Linked DNA regions of Homo sapiens: region 2 is linked to region 1. Evidence: fine-mapped QTL for protein levels in blood plasma. A gene starts in region 1. The other region holds a variant in brackets. All regions are shown on one strand. Distances are between the middles of the regions.

Evidence for each region. PIP is the chance, under the fine-mapping model, that this variant and not a neighbour inherited with it causes the effect. The UK Biobank Pharma Proteomics Project read protein levels with antibody pairs (Olink). The fine-mapping took linkage between variants from a reference panel, not from the people measured, so its PIPs are less certain.
Region 2: its variant is fine-mapped to the plasma level of the SLITRK1 protein (UK Biobank, PIP above 0.99).

The regions. Positions count from the first base shown.
Region 1 is chr13:83,878,971-83,887,316 of GRCh38, forward strand. It overlaps SLITRK1 (SLIT and NTRK like family member 1), which reads right to left and starts at 3,504. Exons shown (of 2, transcript NM_001281503.2): 1 at 3,034-3,504; 2 at 1-2,590. The coding sequence starts at 2,537. The coding sequence ends at 447.
Region 2 is chr13:83,791,136-83,799,481 of GRCh38, forward strand. All of the region lies in intron 3 of LOC105370286 (a long non-coding RNA gene), which reads right to left. Among named protein-coding and RNA genes, the nearest start is that of SLITRK1, 87 kb to the right of the region's middle. The variant T/A (reference allele first, on the strand shown) is at 3,515.

The DNA.
Region 1 (8,346 bases):
CCCATCCCTGCGTAGCCAACAGGGAGCCATCACGGGGCTAATCCACAGGGGAAAAATAGATATCTATCTCTCTATATAGATGTGGATATATGTATATATGTATAGAACCGCGGCATCCAACCCCACAGGCCCCGGGGCCGAGGGCGAGGGCACTGTCAGTTCTTCCAGCAGGGTCGTGCTGGGCTTTCTGTCAAAAGGGGCTCTCAGCAAAGAGCGAGCTGGCTGCGCTCTCCCAGCTCTCCACAGTCTGCTCTTTGTTTCAAGGAGGGAGCTAAGTAAGGGGTCAGGCCCTTTCGGTTGTGCGAGCTCACAGTTATTTATCTACTTATGCCCATCCAGGCTGATGGCGCGGGGATTTGGGTACACGCCCCTCCAGCCCCCGGGGTGCCTGCGGTGGGGAAGGATGTATCGCCTTCCCTCTGCCCTCCCCTATTGGGGTTGGGGTCTTAGTCTGAGAGCGAGTGAGAGCCACAGTCATACACTCTGTGGGCCCCATCTGCGTTGTAAGGCCCATTGTGCCAGTAGGAAGAGTCACAGACTGTCTGTAGGGAATTAATCTCGGACGCGGAGGAGTTGGCATCTCGTCTCTTGGACCGCTTTCGGTTCCTCAGGATAAACACGAGCATGCCCACCACGGTGAAGGCGGAGGTGACAAACACCAGCAGCAGTCCCGGGACCAACACCGAGATGGACACCCTGCTGGTGTCTAGGTAGGAGTTGGAGTGCGTCCCGGTCTCCGCCAACCCAGTGCTGTTTTTACTGTGCGAAGTTAACGTGGGCGAGATCCTAGCGTACAGCTGAGGGCAGATCTCGTCATTGGAGAGGAGCATGAAATCCTTTCTAAAGAAGTTCACCGGCGTCTCACACTTGAGGTCGCTCATCAGCACTTCGGAACCCAAGCGTTCTGCCCACTGCTTGAAAGGCACAATTGTGCAGGAGCACTCCCAGGGGTTTCCGTGGAGGTCTATCTGGATGATGGAGGTTAACTGGTCCAGCACCCCTGCCACCGGGAGGTACATGAAGTAATTGTTGTGCAGGCTGAGTTTAGAGAGCGAGACCCCAGCGAACACGTCCACAGGCAGGGACCTCAGCAGGTTGTTGTTGAGAATGAGGATCCTCAGTTTGGGCATGGCATTGAAAGTGCCCGGGAGGATGAGCTGGATAGCGTTGTACTCCACGTTCAGGTACTCTAGGTTTTGCAGCCCCGCGAATTTCTCCCGGGACAGCGTGTCCAGGTAATTGCTATCCATGTATAGCCACCTGAGGTCCAAAAGGTTCTTGAAAGTGTTGTTCTCTACAGTAGCGATGTTATTGTTGCCCAGATCCAACAGAATGAGGTTCTTGTAATCCACAAAGTGCGATTTTCGGATGCTGTGGATCTTGTTATCTCGTAGGAAAAGCTCCTGCACGTTAGAGAGCTTGGGCTTCAAATCAGCCAAGCTGCTCACGTTCCTGTTGTTGCAGTTCATCTTTAAACCCGACCCTGGGATGTGGTCGCAGCTGCAGCCCCCAGGGCAGGGTAAACTGTTAGCTAAGGGTTTGTTCCTGGAGCTACCCGTCGCTATCGCTGCTGTGGGTCTGATTTTGATCTGCCAGTTGCCTGGGATCTTTGTACCTCCGTTTGGAGCAGACCCTGGTGTGGCATGATCCTCTTGCCCATTTGTCTTGAAAGGAGTTGGCAGGGGTCCAGGAGCAAAGGTCTCTTCTTGGGCAGGGGGCGCCGGGAGACTAGAATCCACTCGGTTTTTCAAAGGACACAAGTCCTGTTCGGTGGTTTCATTGAGGTCTTTACCCTGCAGTCTGGTGGGGGCTTCGCAGACCACTCGGCCGATCAGGGCATTCTTGGGAATGTTTTCCAGCCATTCTTTCAGGGAGAGCAGATCACAGGTGCAGTCCCAAGGGTTATCCTCTAGCAGGATCTCCGCAATACCAGGGATTTGCTCCAAGACCTCCTCATAGGGCAGCGTTTTCAGCCTGTTACCCCGGAGGTCGAGGTGGGTGATGGGCACATACTGGAACACGTTGGCAGGTAGGGTGCTGATGAGATTGTCATTTAAAATGAGCACCTCCAGCTTGTTCAAGTCCTGGAAGGCCCCCGGGTCTATATCTCGTAATAAATTAAAATCAGCCTGGAGATATTCCAGATCGTCCAGCCCCAGAAAAGTCTGCTTTCGAAAAGACTTGATCTTGTTGTTGTTGATGTGCAGCCTTTTCACCAGCTGCAGCCCCAGAAAAGCCCCCGGAACGATTTCATGCAAGCCATTGTTTTCCATGTGCAAACTAACCGCATTATAAAAGTTAGCGAACTCATTAGGGAAAAGTCGAGTGAGGGAATTGCCATGCAGAAATAAATGGTAAAACTGGGAAGTCGGGGCAGTGAAACGCTGCAGACTTGTGAAGCCCTTTTTTTCACAGTCTACGTGTAGGTCCCCTTCTATCTCATTGCAGGAACAGATCTTCTCTTTGCAAACGTCCCCTGTAACGTTTCCAGCGGCAAAACAAAGAGACGTCTCCAGCAACAGAATCCAAAGCAGCATTTTTAAAGCGAGCAATTCATCCCCGATCTCATCACAAAGTAACAGCGACCATCCTGCTCGCCACAGACACAATTCAAGTTCATTTAGTGCTCCAATGTCCGAAGCCAGGAAAGGAGAAGAAAAGGGTTTGGGGGGGTGGGGGTGGATTCCTTCCTCCCTAACCCCCCCGCACTGCAATAGCCCAGACGCCAGTCAATAATTATATCCACAAACTATCCAGGCACGTAGTGCAAGGCAAGCAAAGAAAAAAAAAAAAAAAAAAAAGTAGGAAAAAAACCCCACTCCCCCACAACACTTTAAAAATAACAGAAAAAGAAGTTAAATATATACATATAAATTAAAAGTACACCCTTACAGAATCTCATCTACTGATCTTCACTGATCAGAAATGAAACAATGCTAGTAATTAGAAGCAAGTGCATGTTAGAGAAACAAGCAGAGGGTTTGCAGCGTAGTACAGGCGCACTGCCTGTGCATGGCTGTGCGTCGGACTGACCTTGCCTCTCTGATACAAAGCAGGGTTTTCCGCGGCTTCTGTTGTTGAGGCTGCTGGTGGAGTTCTTGCTGTGGTTGCGGGTTGCCCAGAAGTCCCCCCGAGGTGCTGTCCAGTTCCCCCGGTGCTGAAATCACGCCCGACCGAAGGACTCACGCTGCCCAGCCAATGGCGCTGGAAAATTTCCGCAATCGCTGCGTTTTGTGGTTGTCCATCCTTTTCCTTTCCTCCCCTTCGGTCCTCTTAAGGCTTTTTTTTTTCTTTTCTGTGCTCTCGCTCTCGCTTACTAGCTCTTCTTTTCCTGTTCTCCTTCTCTTTCTTCTGCTCTTTCGGAATTACGTGGAGGGGGGCGGAGGGCGGGGGGCGAGTTGTCTGAGGGAGGAAGAGAGCGCGAGAATGAGGGGAGGGGGGCGGAGAAGAGAGTTGCTAAGAAGCTCTGCTCGTTCCAGCCTGGTGCACTCTGAAAGATCTGACACCCTCTGCTGATCTGCAGTAGCAAAAATCCATCTGGCTAGGGAATGCTGAAAGAAAAAAAAATCAATCCACGTACAGGGCAAGCGTTAAAAATGTGGGCATAAAAGGCTGACGATCTACATAGATGCTTATTTTAAATGGATTATTTGATTATTTTTGCGTGCTGGAAACTTTACCCTTTCCTTTCCTTAACGAGTTCACAGCCCCCACCAGCTCCACCATTCGGAAAGGAGTGCTTTTAAAACATTTATTTCCCAATGGCTTGAATAAAATTAGTGTCAGGGTGTCAAGCGAACAGCAATTTGAGGTAATTATACTGCACGCCATTTTCATCGGTTCTTTAAATGCATTTCTTCCTTCTCTGCGGCACAGTGTTTTACGCTATTTGATGTCTTTGAAACATTTCTTTTGGTATGTTCAAAGTGGCTTTCGGAACATATATGTTACATAATATCATAATTGAGTATGAATTTTTTTGCAAGGTATATAAATTAGGCATATACTTTTTAAAACTTGCAGAAATTTAGTCAATTTGGTCATTGAGAGTTAGGTTCTTTGATATTTCTTGAATGTTATTTAACTCTGGAGGGTGAAACACAATGCATGCTGAAGTCCTTGATTCCAGTCCCGAAAGCTTTAACTGAGAACCGGAAAAGAAGGGAGAGGGGGCAGGGAAAAATCCCAAGATGATTTGTGAGTGCTGTTAAAAACCCACTGGCAGGCAGGCGCGCGCACACTACACGCACGCACACACACACACACACCCCACTGACAAAGTTTTCACATCAGTTTGAACTAATTTAAATGTTTACAAGTAAATAACCAGTTGCATTTTGAGAGGAGGAGATAGAAATCTCTGGACTCTAAAGCTCAGCGAGAACGCTCTCTGCAGGTAGCCGGCAGCTCCTCTTCGCGCAGATGCTTGTTGGGTCACTGATGCTGGGGAAACACGAAGCTCAGGCTTTTTCCAGTTAAGGAAACAACAGATTCCAAACTCTGAGCTTATAAAAATCCAGTAATATCACCTTCTGGGATGGAAGAAAACGTGAACATGCTGCTTCCGTGAAGCCTCTTTTGCTGACTTTTCCTTTCAGAGTCGACACCTTTTCACATCAATACGTCCTAAAATATTTATAGATCATTTTAGGATTTGAAATTTTTAGGTCTTTTAAATAGAGTTACTGTTTGGCCCTTTCTTCACTCTATGCAGAGAGGATATGTTTACACCACTTGCCTTTTTAATTAGGTCTTTTGCAAGTTGGACAGCTGCAACGAGCTTGCTAATATTTTGTGCAAAAGAGCAAATGTTCAAGGAAGTGTGTATTTTGAGAAAGATGGGGAGTAAAAATTTGGGGGAAAGGACTGGGGTTGGGAAAATTCCCAAGGCTAGGGAAGGTCTTAAAGATGTTTACAAGATTTTTTTTTCTGGGTCAGAATCTAATTTCTAGGTGGGTGGAGAAAATTTCATATCTATATACAATGTTTTCATATGACAAAATATTTTTGTTGTATTCCTCTGGTGAAATTCAGTGAAGGGAGGTGGGGATGAAGACATTTCAGTGTGTGTGTGTATGTGCATGCATGTGTGTGTTTGTGTGTGTGCACGTGTGTACACTAGAGAGATCTTTTTTAGACATCCTGATACACTTCTGAAATAACTCTGTTCTCATTTAATTTGACCCATTACCACATGTAGAGAGTGAAAAAAAAAGACCTTAATCAATTTGAAACCATTATGCTAAAGAAATGCTATGCAGTTGAGAACTGCAGATGTGGAGGAGTTCAACTGAAGGAAATCATTTTTCTGTTTCTTCTTAAATAGGACTCAGGTCTAAAATATCTTGGCCCAAGAAACCACTCTGAGAAAGGAAATCAGCCTTATGGTGTCTGTGATTAATAGGGTTAGGCAAGACTCAAGGAAAACAGAAAAATGCTGGCTGTTTAGAAAGGACAATCATCTAAAACCCACATTTTTAACCTTAAAAGGTTACATTTTTTTTCAACTTACAGAATATTATCTTTATGTGAAGAGACTCCAAGAACATATTTAAGTTGATTTAAATGAATTTAGATAACCTACAGTTTGTATTCAGATTTCATTCTCCTCTTCACCCTTTAAATTCTGTATCTTTCTCTCATCCCTTATTTCTTCTTTCCTCTTAACACACCAATCACAATAGAAAATTTACAGTTAGGATTCTCCTATTTAGGTATCTTACAAAATTTTTTAAATTATATCCTCTTCAAATAATTTCTTATCTCTGCACTCTAAGAAAAAAGTGTGGTAGTTCTCAGATGAGCAACTAAACCTGAGAAGAAAAGATTAAGATTATACCGCCTATATGAAGATCTCCAATACAAACTTGCAAGCAAAATATAGAGGTACACATGTAAGTCTATTGAAATGGACCCTCTATAATAGCTATCATAATATTTTCATAATAAATATATTTTAGAGACATAAAACGGTCTAGAAAACCACACCTACAACTTCAAAGCCTAACTATTCAAGTTAAACAATAAATTTATTGGTGGAGAATAAAAATATAAGGGATTTATATGTGATCTAAACATTTCTAATACCTTAGGGGAATATTTCTTAGGCATGAATTTTTCTTAAAAGGGTTCCACGCTGTCTATTTGAGCTCAAGTGAACTCCTTCAGTTGCCTTGCCTCTCAACAGATAATCTCAGTAGCTGGAGATAAAGGATATTCCAGATGATGATGATGATTGATAATATTTGCTCAGGGCTATAGTTTAATTTCCTGGCTGTGACCAGAAAGATTTCAATTGTGTCATTAAATGTTCACACATTTCTATTCTTCATCAAACAAGTTCTCCTCTCAAACAAGAAAAGGTGTATGTTGATTGTTCAATAAAGAATTTTTCAGACTAAGAAGAAATTTGCCAGTTAATTATCCATTTTTTCCCAAATGGCATCAAGTTTCTAGATATTTCCATATGTGCACTACATTTTTAAAATGAAAAAGTAGAATTTATAACTAACTTTTTTTATCCAGTTTATTTAATCTTCACAATAACTTTAAAAATTACTGTTCTAATTTTTAACTGTAAAAGTAATACTTTGATTTAACAAATACAAAATTACATATAGGAAGTCTATCTTTACTCTTCCCTCATCCACAATACTTTTTATTGCAGAGAACTAAAGATAACTGGTTGGTTAATAGTGAATTTGATCCTATTTTATGGATGTGGAAACTGAGGCTAAGTAACATTGACTAATTTACCAAGATTAAAAAATATCATTTGACTTTGTTATGGTAACAAAGCTACAGACTCCTGAACTAAGCTTTTATTCTACTAAGTCTCTCTTTGTTCTTAATATACAATGCCATTTATGACCCTGGTTAAGCTTTCTGTGGATCAGTTTCCTTACTAGTATATTTAACACATACTAGTATATATTATAGTTTATGATTTTTTTGGTCCCTTCACGTTGCTTTTTTCTGAATCCAAAACACTTTAAAAATGATTTTACAACAGACCTAGTGTCTCTTGCCTTCCTTAGACTTTTCACATTTGAACTCAGGATAATTGTTACCACATTTAATATTTACTATGATTTGAAACCAGTAATAAACAGTATAACCACTGTAGGAGAGAATTCATTAGTCCTAAGTTTAATCTACTACTGTCATAAGATAAAGGGGTCATTGTGATTTTTTTCATCTTGAGATAATAATTGTAAACTACAAGACAGGGTTATAAATGAATTGTACCTATAAACAAATATGCTTAGAATGTAAGATTCTCACACATATTTTCATATCTTATTTTTGTAGATTGTAATATTCTAGGAATTGGGTGCTACGATAATGAAGATATTACACAATTTCTGAAGGTGAAGTTAATACAATATTTTTATAGTATTTCTTTTATAGTATATTGCTTTTTAAAACTTAGCAACTTTTATTTCTCATCAAAGAAATAGCAATCTCAGTAAAACACATCAAAATGAATGTACAGTTTTACTTTGTGGCTTAAAGTATCACTGTCCTATGTTTATATCATTTTATATTTTTTATTACTTTGGGCCATAGGTTTGGCTATGAGTTTCTCATATAGTCTCATTTTTGTAACAAATCTCATATTGGGCTTATTGGAAAGAATACTGATCAAAATATAATTTTATATATTCAGAAATTCTAATTTATTATTTTTGTTATTTCACATGAATAAGGCAACCAAAGTTTTGCCCAGTAAGGGTAATACTCTTAGCTATATATCACACTATACTACACACACTACAAGTATATGAGAAGGATCTATATTTCCACAATTGTTTATTATATTAATTGATGCTTAAGTATATACTTTTTGAGCACTTGTTTTAGTATTTTCTATATGTTCACAAGACCTTGCAGATACTCACACACAGAAGAAAAAGTCTGTGTTTCCTACAAAGTATGTATTATATTGTAAGATAATGAAATACATATTACTTACATAGGTTTTAGGAAACACAGAAAACAACAAAAAAGAAAGTTGAAATCCACAGAGATTAGTGCTGTAAAAATATACATATACTTTTTAACATGCTTTTTGTACTTAACATTTATTTGTGAAAAATTTTAATGTTATTAAACATCTTCTACTATCAGAGACTTAATTCCTTGTATGACACAAAATAATTCATAGGACTAATTTTACCATTGGATATTTAGTTCTTTATAGAATTTTTACTCTCATAAATAATGCAGCAAAGAACCACCTTAAACATAAATCAATGTTAACATCATTATTTATTTTCTTATTATAGGTTCCTGGAATTAGAATTCTTAGTCTGTTTTGTGTTGTGTATAATAGAATACCTAAAA
Region 2 (8,346 bases), 88 kb before region 1:
TACCAGGAGACGACCTTGGAATCTTAGGCATCTAGATAGGGAACGTGAAAAAGAAAATGAGTTTGAAATTGCAATGGCAAGATTGTGTGCTCTTAGCAATATTCTGAAACACAAAAAAGAAAGACACTTGTGATAAGCAATGAGGCAGATGGAGAAAGATTTCTGCTTTTATATATATCCAGAAATGGCAGCAGTTTATTAATTCTTGCTTGGGCTTTTAGATGAGTAAAGAGTACTTTAAAACAATATTTTCTTTTCCTACTTACAAATTGCTGCTTATAATATAATTAAATAAATTTAAAAATCACTCAAATATAACCTAACAAAGGAGTATTTCTTTTAAATCTTACATATAGAGGGCAGAACACTCTAAATTACTTTCTGTTATATTTTAAGCACTCCCTAAAGACTTAAATAATAGTTGATTGAGTGTTTTAGATATTAATGATTCATAGAAAACGTCTGCATTCTTCCCCTTAACAATTAAAATAACAGCATTAATCCTAAATTAAAACATGCTTTAATTTGGTTATTTGCCCCTAATATTTGTCCCTCTGTTTTTTTAATTTTAAATTGCAAATTATATTTTATGATATGAAATATACAATGATGCTATAAAAATATATCAATATCTATTAAATTTCCATCAAGACACTCACTTTAATTTCTGTGGAAATACTATGAGAGTTTTTAAATTAGGATTTATCTACCATTTGGGCAGAGAAAAGATATCTAGGCACACATAAATAATGAGTAGTGAATCACCGGGGAGTTCCCAAGAAATAGAGTCAGCAATTTTTTTGTTTTGTTCTGTTTTTTGAGACAGGGTCTCACTCTGTTACCCAGGCTAGAGTGCAGTGACACAATCACCGGTCACTACAGCCTCAACCTTCCAGGCTCAAACCATCCTCCCACCTCAGACTCCTGAGTAGCTGGGACTATAGTCATATGCCACCACATACAGCTAATTTTTTTTAAGAGATGGGATTTCATTATGTGGCCCAGGATAACATGGAATCAGAAATTTTAATAATGGTTTGTATTTTCTGTTGTCACAGGCATTGCCCTAAATGAATTTGAGTTGTCCCAAGTCAATATGTTTACCTATATAAGAGGATATGTTTGCAATCATAGCTGAGGTCAAGCATTCATTGTACAGCTTCCCTGTAAATTTTTACTGCTTATTACTGCTAAAATCACTAGCTGGAAAGAGGCAAGAAAATAAAATTTTTACAAAAGTCAGGTCAATTGAGGAGCTCCACTGCTAATAGCACCAACTTCAAGCAGATTTGTATATGAGCTTGTCCTGGAGGGAACAGTTTCTAATAAAATCTGACTCTACTTTTAAGTTTTCTACATTAGGCACTTTGAATGGATCCACACAACAAATTGAACACTAGGCAGCTTCACTGTTTTCTGATATGCAGTTTTGAATATTGTATATTACCCCAATTACACATCTAGAAGGATATAAAAACATATTGTGTGCACGCTTGGATTAACAATTAATTTAATGACATATGTTTGTGAATATACTTTTCTTTCATTTAACTTTTATGACTTAAGAGGAAACAATTCTTTGATAGTGATTTCTATACCACTTTAACATATTACCATAGTTGTTTTTTTTTTGTTGTTTTTTTTTTTGGCCTAAAACAACACACTATTATTATCTAACTTCTGTAGGTCAGAAATAGGAATGAAATTCTGCTGGTTTTTTGCACTGGGTCTCAGAGAGCCAAAATCAGTGTCAGTGAAGCTTTGCTCACCCTTTCTGGAGGCTCTGGGGAATTAACCAGTTTCCAAATTCACTCTGGTTGTTTGGAAGAATTCAGTTTCTGTAACTGAGGTTTTCATTTCTTTGCTGCCTCTCAGATGTGAGGGTTAATCTTCCCTCCTAGAGGTTAGGGGTATTTCTTCTCATGCTTTGAGGTGCCTGCGACACTCTTAGTAACGGCCCTTCTCACCCATGGTCTCCAGCAACAGCAAGTGGATTCCCTCTCAGACTTTGAATCTCTCCAACTTCCCTTTTGCTGCCTCTTTATGCCATCTTGTTCTTCAACTAGCTGTAGACAATACTCTGCTTGTTTTTTGTTTTTTTTTTTTTCTTTTTTTGAGATGGAGTCTCACTCTGTTGCCCAGGCTGGGCAGTGGCGTGATCTTGGCTCACTGCAACCTCCACCCCCCGGGTTCAAGCAATTCTCCTGCCTCAGCCTCCTGAGTGGCTGGGATTACAGGCACCTGCCACTGCACCGGGCTAATTTTTGTATTTTTATTAGAGATGGGGTTTCACCATCTTGGCCAGGCTGGTCTTGAACTCCTGACCTCATGATCCACCAGCCTCGCCTTCCCAAAATTATCTGCTTTTAGAGGCTGATTAGATTAGATTAGATTGGGTGATTAGATCAGTGACACCTGGATAATTCAGGTCACCTTTCCCTATTTTAAGGTCCATGACATTAATTATATCAGCAAAATTCCTTTTACCACATTGGGTAACATTCACAAATTTTCAGGGCAAGAACGTTGTACCTTTTGAAGGGTCTACTATTCTGTCTACCAGAACTGCTAATCCACAGGAATTGGTTTACCTTTTCCTTTACCTTAGCATCTGATTTTTTGGGGTCACATTTTTTGAAATATGAACACAACACTTAATGTTATATAATATAGTTATTGTCAATTGAAGAAATACATTGATTTTTTTCTATCTTAATTACAGAAAAAGTAGCATGATCAATGTTTTACTTAAAAAATATTGAATCAGAGGTTTTAAAAGTATCTGATATCTACCCAAAGTTATGTTTCTCATTTTAAGAAAATCAGTAAATTGAATATTAAAATAAGAGACAGATTTTCCAGTCCATTTTTTTTCTGCATTCCCCCCCCGCAACTCCCCAAAAATATACAGGATCTGAAATTCCATGATATCATGTTCATTTTACATCCCCAACAATGAGACTTTGTATTGATGCTGGCTGAAATCGATGAATGTGTGACAGAATATTCTTTCCATCCTTAATTAATATTAAATGGGCTTTGCATTTAAATAGTCAGTTTCTATTTCGCATTCATTTCCTCAAAGAACTTAACATTCTTAGGCAGGAAAAAAAGTGGTAATTTGTACCTTTCAATATGTTCTTTCCCCTCTATGCCTTAAACATTATCTGTAGTTCCATTACATGGTATAAGTATTGCAACAAAAAGTGTCTTGACTGTTCATCACTCCAAGCATATTCTTTAGAAATAATATATTTTCAGTCCTGAAAGTGCTTGCTTACATTTAGTTCATTAAAGTTTATTATTTCCTAAAATGCATGAAGTAAAAAATATATTTCTGTTCATGTTTTAGATTTTCTATTAATTTTACTCTGCTGTTCATTTTTTCCCATTTTCATAAACTAAGTAAACATAGTAAACTCTCCATAGTTTTTAAAGCATGAAATTCTTTCTGACATAAGCAGGAAATTACTTCAGTTTAATGATGAGGCAGAAATCCAACTGATTACAACAG[T/A]ATCATTTACTGATTTTAACAGTGAGAAATTCTGTGTTGCTATTTTGGGAATTTAATTTCTTTGCAGTCTGTCCCTTCAGCACCCAGGACATTTCTGGAATGATGGATATTCTATGAGGAAGGCAATGTCAAGCCTACAGACATGCCTGAACACACTGTGGAAATTTATGGCCTGCTTTCTTGGTGCTAATGTAATGAGCTGCATCATAGTTAAGGTTCAAGAAGAGAAGCTGTCATTTCAGTATCTTGACATACATCAGTGTTAGAAAAATTAACCATTTTCAAACAGATAAAAGCCATGCGCGTATTTTCCTCTATGTTGTTATATATAAATATAAGTGCAATTAAACTAATCATGGAAATGAATTATTTTCTAGGACATTTACACTTAAAACTGATGATAAAATGTTTAGGAAAATCAAGATCTAAGGGAGCATTGACATTTTTTATAACAACTGGATATGGAATTTAAATTTCAATATTTTTATGCAATAAAGTATTAGTAATATCCTAAAGTTTTACATACACACACACACACACACACACACATACACACACATTTATTGTCAGACAGAATGAGAAGATTCTGTTTGGAATTATTTTTCTAGAACAGAATAAAGATTTAAGCCAGGAAAACATATTGACAAGTTATTTAGTGTGCTATATTTTTTAAAGAAATATAGCAAAAGTCTTTTCTATGGAGCTCTCTTTGAAAAGTCTCTCTAATGCTATAATACTTACCATGTTTAATGCTTTCTAAAGTTAAACATGTGGTGACAAATAAATGTATTCCTTTATCAGCCCAAGTACAAAACTTTTATGTATGTTTCAAGCCAATTGTCATTTTTTAAATCTCCAGTTAAAAATTTTAATTATCAGTAACAAATGTGGACATGCAATTATATTCCATAGCTGGTATGTTTAAGCAGGTCTAACTCTTTTCACCCCAAGCTAAGTATCTCAGTTGGTACATCACTGTCTTGAGTTTTTAGTACAAAGTGGGTTTCTGTTAAAAATAACTATAGTTATAACATCAAAAAAAACTTGAGATAAATAGAAATTTTAGTTCATGATTTTTTCAAGAGTACAAACATAATTCAAATATAATTGCTACTTTAAAATTTCACTCATGTCAGAGTATAAGCAATCACAAATACAGAAAACAACAGTTATTTGTTGAACATGTAGTGAAGACTTTGATGAACAGGATTCCTTTCATGTAGTGGGCCACATGAAGAAATTCACATTAACATGAAATTTTGACTTTGCATATGGATGCATATTTTTTCACAGCTTTTGAAGTCTACAGGGATTCCATCACTTTCTTCCCAGAATGTTCTCCATGAGATAATTGTGTGCCGTTTTGAGATGGGAGAGTTCCCTGAACCCCTTTGCTTTTTTGCAACAGGGATGTGGATGGCTTACTCCACCATTATGCTCAAACACTTTGCAGGAGGGACAGCACACAGATGAGTGGGTGCCGGGGCCGGGGCAAGCGCTTTTGGGCTCTGGCCCCATGGTAGTGTCTAGGGGTGTGTTAGAACTAATGCTCTTTTAGCAGTAGCCATATGCAAATGACTTAAGTGTTCACCAGCTCAGTGGTGAGCTGGGTGACAGCGTTTTACACCCTGCCCTCTTGGTACCCTGGTCCTTGTCTGACATCCAGGAAGAATCAAATCAGATGGACTTGAGGGATGATGAATGTGGAGGTTTTATTGAGTGATGAAGGTGGCTCTCAGTTGGATGAGGAGCTGGAAAGGGGATGAAGTGGGAAGATAATCATCCCCTGAAGCCAAACCATCTCCAGTTGGCTCCTCTCCAAAGTCATGCCATCTGAAATTAAGCCAAGTCTATCCACAGTCTCTGACACTCAGTTGCCTCTTCCCCACTCGACATTCAGCCTCTTGGCCCTCTGCCAGCTGAGGTCTGGGGTTTATATGGGCACAGGATAGAGGGGCAGGGCAGGCCAAAAGCAATATTTGGGTGGGAAAACAGGGATGTGAAATTCTCATTTAGGGCCGTGGGCCCCAGCTTGAGAGCAGAGACCTCACCAGGGACCCTGCACTCTTCTACCCCACATTTCCTGGCCTCCTGTCTGTATCAATTTCAATTAAAATCTAATTTAGTTTCCTTCTACTTTCAAAAGCCACTTTAAAGTATAAGTACAATTTCTTATGTTACTAAGGGAAATCACTATGTGGATGAATACAGTTACATTCACTTAACATTCTAAATGTACAATACATCTAATCTCCTCAGCCCCTCAGGTTTAAAAAATATATATACAGTTTTCAATGATGAAATTGAACAATTCACTTTGCAGATTAGGTTTTGTTTTAATCTTGTTGACTGCAACACCTTCCTGCTGGTCACTGTTATTACGTTGTCTATTTATCCCTGTTCTTCACTTCTCTGTATGCCAAACAGAAGCCTAAAGGAAAGGTCTTTTATGAGTTAACTCTCCTCTGGTAACAGAATATATCAAAAGGAAAACTGGAATCAAGGAGAAAACATTACAAAGATATTGACCATTCATCACCTTAATTGAAAATACTCCTTTCTAATAAGAAATTGAAAGCTTAGTCTCCCAACAAATTATTTTCAAAAATACAGCTAATTTTTCAGTGACCTAATCAAAATCTTATGTAGTAAACCTTTCTGCATTGAGCCTATATATATGTGCTATCTGTCCTAGACAAAGTTATGAAGAAGGCAAAAGTCATTTAATGTTAGTCTCCCAGGTTCTGCTCTTTAAAATTTAGATTCACCAAATATTTGGATTATCATGGATAGAGAGACATACAAACTCTCTAAACACAATATAGTTAACCTGTGCCCTGGTCACTTAAGCCAATGACTTGAAATTGATTGTTTCAAAAATTCTCTATTATCAGAATTTCTGCCTTAGAACATTGTATGGAAAAGGTCCCTTAGTGACTTAGCTATTATTTTTACTATTTTCTGAAAAATACTGCAGAACTCTGAAAGCTAGAAGTTGGCTTTTTGTCAACTTTTAAAAATTCTATTTACAAAACTATGGTAAAGGAAAATATTTTAGCAGCATGTGACACAGTATGCTTTGCTACACATGACATTTTACTTGAAGATGCAAAGTTCCATGCATATCCTACTAAGTAACAAAAGGACCTAGGTCAATTATATATTGCCTTGATTGGTTAAATTTTAGGTAACCAGCTACAGATTTGTTTTAATATTCTCTAGCTTATTTTAGACATCTTATATGGGGAAATACATGTAAAATAAATAAGTACGTAGACTTTCCTTTAGGATTTATTTTTTATGTTGGAAAATTAGTAAATAAAAATCTCTAAATTAAATATTTTTCAAGTGGTAAAAGGTCATTTGCTGCCTAATTGGATTTTCTCAAATATGTATATGTATACATATATTTAACATATATATGTATACAGAATTTTGAACAAATTTACTATAGAACATTTGAACCTATTTCCTACTGAAGTATTCCAGATTATGAGAAATTCTGTAGATAATTTCAAGAACATCATTTAGAATGAAATACAATGAACATTCTCTCATATGAGTGTTCTTAATCTAAGTGTCAGAATGTTATATTACTAATAGAATGTCTAACTTAAGTTTAACTTTTAATATTAAAGAAAGAAATCATAAACTTAAAATGTATCAAGACATTGGTCTTCTAATGGATAATGAAGACTATTAGTAGAATAGTTTAGGTCATAAATTTTACTTTCTCTAAACTCTAAAGACAATGGAGACATTAGTGACAATTTGCTTAAATTAACCTGGTCTTGCTTGCTTTGTTTTGTTCAAGTGAAACATACCATTTTACTGTAAAATATTTGGGTTAATTTGGTTACTTTTTAAAATTGAGCAATGCTCAACTGCCACTAAAATAAAAAATGTTTTTTGGTATGCCACTATAATCAGAAGTAATCACAGTAAAATACCATACTGAGACACATAATTTCCTTCCAAATTTGACAGGAACTTTAAAACTAAGATGAGAGAAGAAACTTTCATGAATAAAGTGCTTCAGATATCTCGCTGATAGAGCATATTTCAGAAAAGCAGACCAGGAAAGCTTGTTGTGCTTAACCTTGATGGATCAAGGACATCATGGAACCAGACTGCTTGGATTCAAGTTCCAGCTCCATCACAGGCTTACATCAGAGCTTTAGGAAGTTGCTTAACATTTCTGTAGTTCAATTTTCTCATCAGTGAAATATAGATAAATAATAGAAATATCTGCCCCATAATCTCATTGTAGGGATTAAATGACAATAAACAGTGGTTAGAACGGTGTCTGACTAGAAGATAAGGTTCTGTAAATTGTTATATGCTTAATCTTCCCAAACATCATTTCCTAGATATGACTAAAACTCAAGTCAATTTATTTTATTTTCAGCAAATACAACTAAATATGACTCACTCAGATATCCTTACAGAAATTTCATAATGGCTCTTACCATTATTTCCATAAGATTCTGCTACTAACAATGAAATTCTTATTGAAATTGAGGAACTAGGAGAACACAAGAGGAGAAATCGGCTATTACATGTACTTAGGATCCTTTAGGCAATGAAAATTAATTAATAATAATTCTTATTAACTATAAAAACTGAAAATAATTTTTCAGCTTTAAATGTAATAATGCTAAAATTAATGGTAAAATTTATTAAAGGACATGTGTACTATACTGATAAATATAGTTTTAAAGTGGACTTTTATACATGCTTAACTTTATTTCATATTTTATTTTATCTTTTTATTCTCTTAGTCTAGAACTCTGAATTAAAAGCCTGAATTAAAGTCAAGTGTTAATAATATC